Homo sapiens: one gene and its partner. The protein of the gene in region 1 interacts with the protein of each later gene in a biochemical or structural test. Each region holds a gene or a part of one and is shown in the gene's direction. Other genes may lie near its edges. The genes, in order: CAP1 and MYOC.

The links.
Region 2: the proteins of CAP1 (region 1) and MYOC interact in far-western blotting, tested with the Homo sapiens proteins (one study listed by BioGRID).

Annotation. Positions count from the first base shown.
Region 1 is NC_000001.11:40,064,493-40,068,309, forward strand, and holds part of CAP1 (adenylyl cyclase-associated protein 1), read left to right. Parts: coding exon 1-67; intron 68-1,722; coding exon 1,723-1,828; intron 1,829-3,047; coding exon 3,048-3,225; intron 3,226-3,817. UniProt on the Homo sapiens protein: Directly regulates filament dynamics and has been implicated in a number of complex developmental and morphological processes, including mRNA localization and the establishment of cell polarity.
Region 2 is NC_000001.11:171,642,550-171,646,366, reverse strand, and holds part of MYOC (myocilin precursor), read left to right. Parts: intron 1-3,817. UniProt on the Homo sapiens protein: Secreted glycoprotein regulating the activation of different signaling pathways in adjacent cells to control different processes including cell adhesion, cell-matrix adhesion, cytoskeleton organization and cell migration.

The DNA of each region.
Region 1 (3,817 bases):
ATGTGAAAGAAATGAATGATGCCGCCATGTTTTATACAAACCGAGTCCTCAAAGAGTACAAAGATGTGTAAGTTCAGCCTTTTCTCTCTTTTTTTCTTTTCTGAGACAGTGTCTTGCGTTGTCACCCAGGCTGAAGTACAGTGGCACAATCACAGCTCATTGCAGCCTCAACCTCCCAGCTCAAACAATCCTCCCACCTCAGTCCTCCAAGTAGCTGGGACTTCAGGCACGCTCCACCATGCCTGGCTAATTTTCTAATTTTTTCGTAGAGATGAGGTCTCACTGTTTCCCAGGCTGGTCTCTAATGATTCTCCTGCCTTGGTCTCCCCAAAGTGCTGGGATTACAGGTGTGAGCCACTGTGCCCAGCCAAGTTCAGCTTTTTCTCAAGGGGTAAAGGATAAACCCATTTGGTTACTTGCTGGAGTAGCACTTTGGAGTTACTGAGGGCTGCCCTTAGCCACTGTGCTGGTTTTATCTCAGGGCTGCTTTCTGGAGAGCTTTACAGATATTGTCTCACAGCTGCATTTGCAAGCAGGAAATACTTCTGCTTCCACTTCTGCTTTCTCTCCTTTTTTGGTAGAGGCCCTTTTAGTCTTCTGATCCTTACCCTTCTGGGTTTAGGAAGTTTTGCTGGCAGTAACATGGACTAATGCCCTTTATATAAGATTTTGTTCCTTTGTTGAGAATTTGTTACTGGCCCAATGGCAAAGGGTTCAATAGGACTTAATAGAAATTTTTCATGAAGTCAGTTAAAGTGAGAGTAAGGCTGCCTAGCCAATGCAGGTATTACGTAGGGCAGTCATTGCATGTCTAACCACATACGTCTACCAGTTCTGACTTCTCCATTGCTGGTTTTGAGCTGGAATGATTGCAGGCAAAATTTATTAAGTTGCATATCTACACAAGCCTTTCCTTTCTTCCATCCTTCATCAATCAACAAACATTTATTAACTACTCTTTTTAAGGAAAACTACACCTTCCTGTGAGTGAAATGTGTCCCAGAACAACAGGCACTTCCTTATCCTTCTAGCAACATGGAATTAAGCATGACAGTGTTTTGATATATCCCACCATTATCCCATCACTTTACAGTTGAGGAAACTAGGTCTTAGGCTAAATAACCTTCCCAGTTAATACATAAGAAGAGAGGGGACTTGAACCGTAGGCACAATGCTATTTCTATAATTTAAGGCTGATTGTTTCCCCCTAAGGGAAAGTTTTTAAGTTTGCTTTTGGTCAGGGTGGGCATATTTTGACATAAGGCATTGTCTCATAAGGCAGTTAAGTTTCTTAGTCTTTAGAGTTCCACAGTGATACTTAAGAGCTCTCCTCTCTACCATGGTTTTATGCACAGAATGTCTGCTTTTATCAGTTTTACATATTAGATTGTGTTTAAGGTCTACTTTGAAAAAAGTTTCAATAAGCAGCAAGTGGTCAAAAGAAAAAAAAAAGTTTTGGTACTTAAAACAGTTTGAGAAACATTGCTATGAGAGATAGAGATAGAATCCAGAGTCTCTATCTTAGTGGAGTTTGGTCTGATTAGGGTAATAGACTAGGTTGTATATACATAGAAGCTGGTGATGATAGAAAAGCTGCCATTGAGCGGAGCCTAAGAAACACCACGGGTAGGAGAATGTGAGCCCATAGGAAAGAAGGGTTCTGGAGTCACCACTGTTATGTACCCGGATCACCTGTGACAAGTTCTTCTTTAATCCTCCCAGGGATAAGAAGCATGTAGACTGGGTCAAAGCTTATTTAAGTATATGGACAGAGCTGCAGGCTTACATTAAGGAGTTCCATACCACCGGACTGGCCTGGAGCAAAACGGTTAGTGAATCCTTCCTCCCTCCCTCCCTCCCTCCCACTTTCTCTCTCCAGCATGGGGTCCACAGGTTTCTTAGACTTCAGCACTACCAAAGTCTGTGAGGGAATGCTAGTTTTTTCAGTGGAAGGGAGGAAGAAAAGGAGGAGAAAGAAAGGGTAAAAAGAGTAGAGGAAGCAAGGATCAGAGGAGAAGGAATATTCAGTGGTATTCAATTTCAATAAATATGTTAGGGACAGTGATTGGTGCTGGAGCAGGAGACACACACAAATGAGTTACACTATCCCAGCCTTTAAGGAGCTTAAAAATAAGAATGCAAAACCCCAATACAAATCACCAAGCCAAATGCTATAATAAAGATACAGACTAGAGTATGAGGAAGAGAAGAGTGCTTCTCACTAGAAGAGATTGTACTTTGAAGGTATATACTCTTCTGTGAGACTTGAAAGTAGTATAGGGCAGTGAGAAGTGGGATACTACAAAAGGCACAGCTTAAACAAAATACATGCAGAGTAAATGTAGAGATTGGTCATCTCTGGCTTCAATAAGGGGAAATGATCAGAATTTTAGGAGAAAAGGCTGGAAAGGAAGGTAGGCTGAGACTTTGGGATGAGGTATTTGAGCAAGGGAGTGATAATGATTCAATTTGTCTTTAAAAGAGTCTCAGTGTATAGGTTAGGGATAAGGACTCATGCTCAGATTATGAAAGTGGTCATGGTGTTTGGGGGATAGTAGAAAAACATTTGCAGGAGATAGCACCAAGATAATAGAGATTTGATAAGGTCGAAGAAGTTGGAATCCTCAAAGAAGATTGAATAGTCAGTCTTGGATAGTAACATCTTTCACTGAAATAGGGACAAGGGGATGATTGTACAGGGAGAGGAGCGGCAGGAAATGATGAAATCAGTTTTGAATCTGTTGAATCAGAGGTACTGGTAACACACTAAGGAAGATGTCAAGTAGATTTGTGGAAATAGTTTTTAGAGCTGGAATCAGGTGAGTTCAAAGGCAAAATGTGATGGTCAAGAAATAGAACTGAGAGCTGGATCCTTGGGAAAGGGTGAGAAGGCATAAAGCCAAGTTGGGTATGGGTAGGACACATTAATCATTGCCTCAAAGGCTGTGGTGGGGACCCCATGTGCACTGGCCCATGTAGGGCACTACTGGGAATGGTACAGAGGGGAGCAGAGAGGATGATGATGTTACCTGCACTTATTGTTCCAGGGGCCTGTGGCAAAAGAACTGAGCGGACTGCCATCTGGACCCTCTGCCGGATCATGTCCTCCTCCCCCTCCACCATGCCCCCCTCCTCCCCCAGTCTCTACCATTTCATGCTCATATGAGTCTGCTTCCCGCTCATCACTGTTCGCGCAGATTAATCAGGGGGAGAGCATTACACATGGTGAGTGAGCACTTGGACACGAACAGTAGGTACAACAAGTTGTGTGGGCCAGACCCCACCAACCAGAACCGTCTGTAAACTACAACCCTGGCTTGTGTGGTGGAGACTCGTTTGGTGTGTCCTGTTCCTTTAAGGGACGGCAAAGCTGGCTTAAATGGAAATTGAAAATGATGATCACAGTTGGAGGAAGCCATCTGCCCCATGGGAAAGTGACTTAATATTAGGTAGCATATATAGAGGACCCTCTTGTGCCAAGGCACAGAGCTGGCGGTTTTCCCCAGAGCTTTTTCCGTGGCACCACATGGCCTCTGGGAAGGCATTGTGTTAGGGAGTTAACTTCCTCAGAAGATGCATACTGGTTACATGGAAAATTTGCATGAGAGTGACCTAATGTTGGTATAAAGTAGATACCCTTAACACAGCTGGTGGAAGTCTGAGTTGTCCAGCCACTTCTAGGAATCTATGATCATAGTAGCTAAAAATGGTGTAACAACCTAAATCCAACTGTAAGAGAAATGGCTAACTACCACATGTCCTCTTGATGAAATGTTTTTTATTTTTTTATTTTTTTTGAGACGGAGTTTTGCTCGTT
Region 2 (3,817 bases), about 130 Mb from region 1:
CCAGAGAAATTTTAGTGTTGACACATCTTTATTGAGGGCCATTTCATTTATAGTTACTTATGTAATCATCCAAACAATTCAGCTCAGCATACTGGGGCTCAGAGAGGTGGAGTCATTTACCCAAAGTCACACAGCTGGGACATGGCAGAGCTGAACTAGGAGCTATGACTTCCGGCTTAGGTCCAGGCCCCTTTACGAGATTGTTTCCCTGCCTTTGGGTTTTGCATCCTCTATTCTGGGCTTCCACCCGCATGCCAGATGGCTCTATTCCTGGAGTCTGACCATTGCCAGATGCTCCTGGCTGACATGACCTAGAAGAAGCCAGCAGGCTCATAACTTAACCATCGCCCCTGCCAAATGGGAACTGGCCTTGCCGTCATCCTGGAAGCCATTCCCTGACATTTTGTTTTATTGCAGTTCATGTTTATTCCAGCTAATGCACATAAGGAGTGGTTCCTGCAAGGCACAATCTGAAGGGCTCCTTGCTCAGAGCCGTAAGGGCCATGGTGGGATTCAGCAGGGAACTTGGCACCAGCCAGGCACTTTTGCTGCCTCTTCTTTGCCAGTGAGGGTAGAAGAACTGATAAGAGGATTGAGTGCACAGCCCAGGAGCTGAGAGTTTACAAGGCAACCCACTGGGACCTGAGCTCAGCCCCAGGAGTGGGTCACCCCACAAAGTGCTGAGCAGCATCTTTGAGACTCTTCTGAAGCCTCCAGTAGCCATCTGGGTCCAGTCGGGAGATAGAAATCACACAGTGGGTTAAGCTGGGGAAGTTTACTTTAAAGAATTACTAACCGTGATGAAAGAGCAACTATAGATAGACGTGAACTCCATAGGCACCTAGGGCTGAGGGAGGGTGCCGGACAAGCTTGGAAGGGGAAGGTGAGGTTCAGCACATCAGCTTGCAGAGAAGGTGGCTAAGGTGTGCAGGCCTCAGCTGGTCTGCAGCTGCAATAGGCCGCCTCCCAGTGCAGGTGAGGAGGGCAACCTGCAACGTGTGGCAAGGGCATGGTGGGAGTCAGGGCAGGCACAGGCAGGAGGCCTCCAGAGCACTGAGGTCCGTGTGCAGGGACTCTGGGTTCCTTGTTGGGAGGGCTGTGGAAAGGTTATGGCCAGGCTGTGGCTGTGAGGTCACAGAAGAACTTCGCTCTGGGTCCGTGGCTGGGGTAGGACTCCAACAAATGTCCTCACAGTCATACCACCTATGGACGCAGGACAGGAAAACTGCAGACCTTTTTCCTCCCACGATGTCCCTCCAGCGCCCTCTACTGAGATAGTTCAACATCGCGCTCACTTCAAAGCTCTTGTTCTTCAGACAGCATACATGGGAGGGTGCATTCAGCTCTGAGAGGCAATGCGTTTATAACTGACACACCTCCTCAGCACAGGATGGAAGAGTTCGCAGCTGCCATGGCCTCGGAAGACATGGGTTCAAGTCCCAGCGATACCACTTAGCTGTGTGACCTTGGGCATGTTACTTAACCTCTCTGAACCTCGGTTTCCTCATTTGCAAAAGGGGATATTAATGTTCACTTTCAGGACCATTATTTGAAAGTAGTGAGTAGCAAGCACCCAGCACAGTACTGGCTCATAAGAGACACTTAATAAGTAGTAGCGATAGTTCAACTTTATCAGGCGCTATCTGCAGTCCTAAAGCCTTTCTCTATTTCTCTGAAACTTTGAAGGCACCAGATCACATTTAAAAATTACATAAAAATTACTTGAAATGGGCAAAGAGCTATAAATGCCGACAAACCATCTTGTTTCACAAAAAAAAAAAAAAAAAAAGCTGTTTTTTAGAGTTGCAAAGCCAGTACATACTTTAGCTATCCACAAGGAAGTCATCTGTGAAAATGCCTGACTTTTTTGGGTTTCACTTTCTTCCTTCCCTCTATAGCAAAAGGGGCATTTCTTTCTTAATTTTCTCCCCACTGACTGGTAGGTAGGTACCCCTACTTTTCTTAGTATACATCTTTTCTCGGTAAGTTGTTAAATTAAATAACCAGCATAAAATACATCATTTTGTATGTGTAAAGGGGCCAGATGCAGGGGAGGGATGGCTCGCCTGAATTTAATATTTTTTTAAAAACCTAAAAAAAAAAGCCCTAAAAATGTTAACGATCTGTCACAATATAGCCCTTAATATTTTCATAATCTCTTTTTGGTTTTCTTCCACATTCAGAATGAAATGTTAGTGATTTTGAAACATTCCAGAGAAATTTTAGTATTGACACATTTATTAAGGGACCCTCCCATGGCAACTGTGGATGGCATAGCTGAAGTGTAGGGACAAGGTTGGGGCAGTCCTCCAGACTTTGTGTACAGATGGCATGCAGTATTTCTCTCTCCTCACATTGCCTGAAACCAACTCCTTTTTTTTTTTTTTTTTTTTTTTTTGAGACAGAGTCTCTCTGTCACCCAGGCTGGAGTCCAATGGCACAATCTCAGCTCACTGCAACCTTTGCCTCCCAGGTTCAAACGATTCTCCTGACTTAGCCTCCCTAGTTGCTGAGATTACAGGCATGTGCCACTATGCCCGGCTAATTTTTGTATTTTTAGTAGAGACAGGGTTTCAGCATGTTGGTCAGGCTGGTCTCGAACTCCTGACCTCATGATCCACCCACCTCAGCCTCCCAAAGTGCTGGAATTACAGGCGTGAGCCACCATGCCCAGCAACTCTTATATTCTGAGAGTTGAGACAATGAAAGAAAAGAAATTTGAGTTGTCCTGAGGCAGAGTCTGCAGTGATCCAAGAAGAGGTACAGATGAAAGGAAACCAGCTCAATTCAAGGAACTTGCTTAATGCCCTGATTTTGAAAAATTGTCCTGGCAAGACTTTGCCACATCGAATGAGCCTCTGCACATTGCAGGAGGCTGGCAGGGCCAGGGAGCGGTGGGCTGCTCCTAACAGCCTGGGTGTGTGTTCTGGGCCTAAGAGAGAAGGCATGGCAATCGGCGAGGCAGCATCAGAGAGGAAGGTTACAGATGGTTCTGCCACCTGTGTACAGGAAGGCGGTCACTCTCTCTTACCTCTCCCTGGCAGCACAGAAGAACAGGGAACCTCGGGCACCCTGTCCCTCTCCCCCATAGGCAGCACCAAGTCCCTGCCGGAGGTGTGTGTTGCCTGCACAGGGGGAGAAGGGAAGCAGCTGGTACTGGTCTCAGGTCGATCTAAGGAAACTCCATTTGACCTAGTGAATCAGTCCCTGCCCTGGATACCCTCCTAGGCCAATGCAACCTTTAGAATGAAGAACAAAGGGGTTTCCTCACCCCTGCACAACCTCAGATAGGGAGAAGGAGACGCAGGGAATGAAATAAAAGTTTCCAGGACTCTCCAGGAGCCATTCAGATTGTCCAAGAAACTGGTTTCCGCAGCAGCCTGGAATAAACCCATTTTCCTTCTCGGGTATGAGGACTTTGCCAGATTATGATTTCCTTAAGGGCATGGACTGATTGTGTCTTTTTTTTTTTTTTTTTAAACATAGACTAGCCTATTAGACAAACTTGTGTCTTAGACACCTTTTTTTCTTGAGCACCTAGCACAGCCTTGCACTCAATAGGTGCTCCAATGATGTGACTAAAAGGATGGATAAATAGCTCTGTGGATTTGAGGCTAGGAATAATGAAGGCCTGCCATGTCCCGGGGGGTACTCCCAATTGCCCCTGGAGTTTGGAATGCACATTGAGGATGTCCTCAGTTACATATACATTTTGGCTTATGAGTCTTTCTTTTTTTAATTTTTTTTTTTTTTAAGACAGGGTCTCACTCTGTCACCCAGACTGGAGTGCAGTGGCATGATCATGGCTCACTGCAGC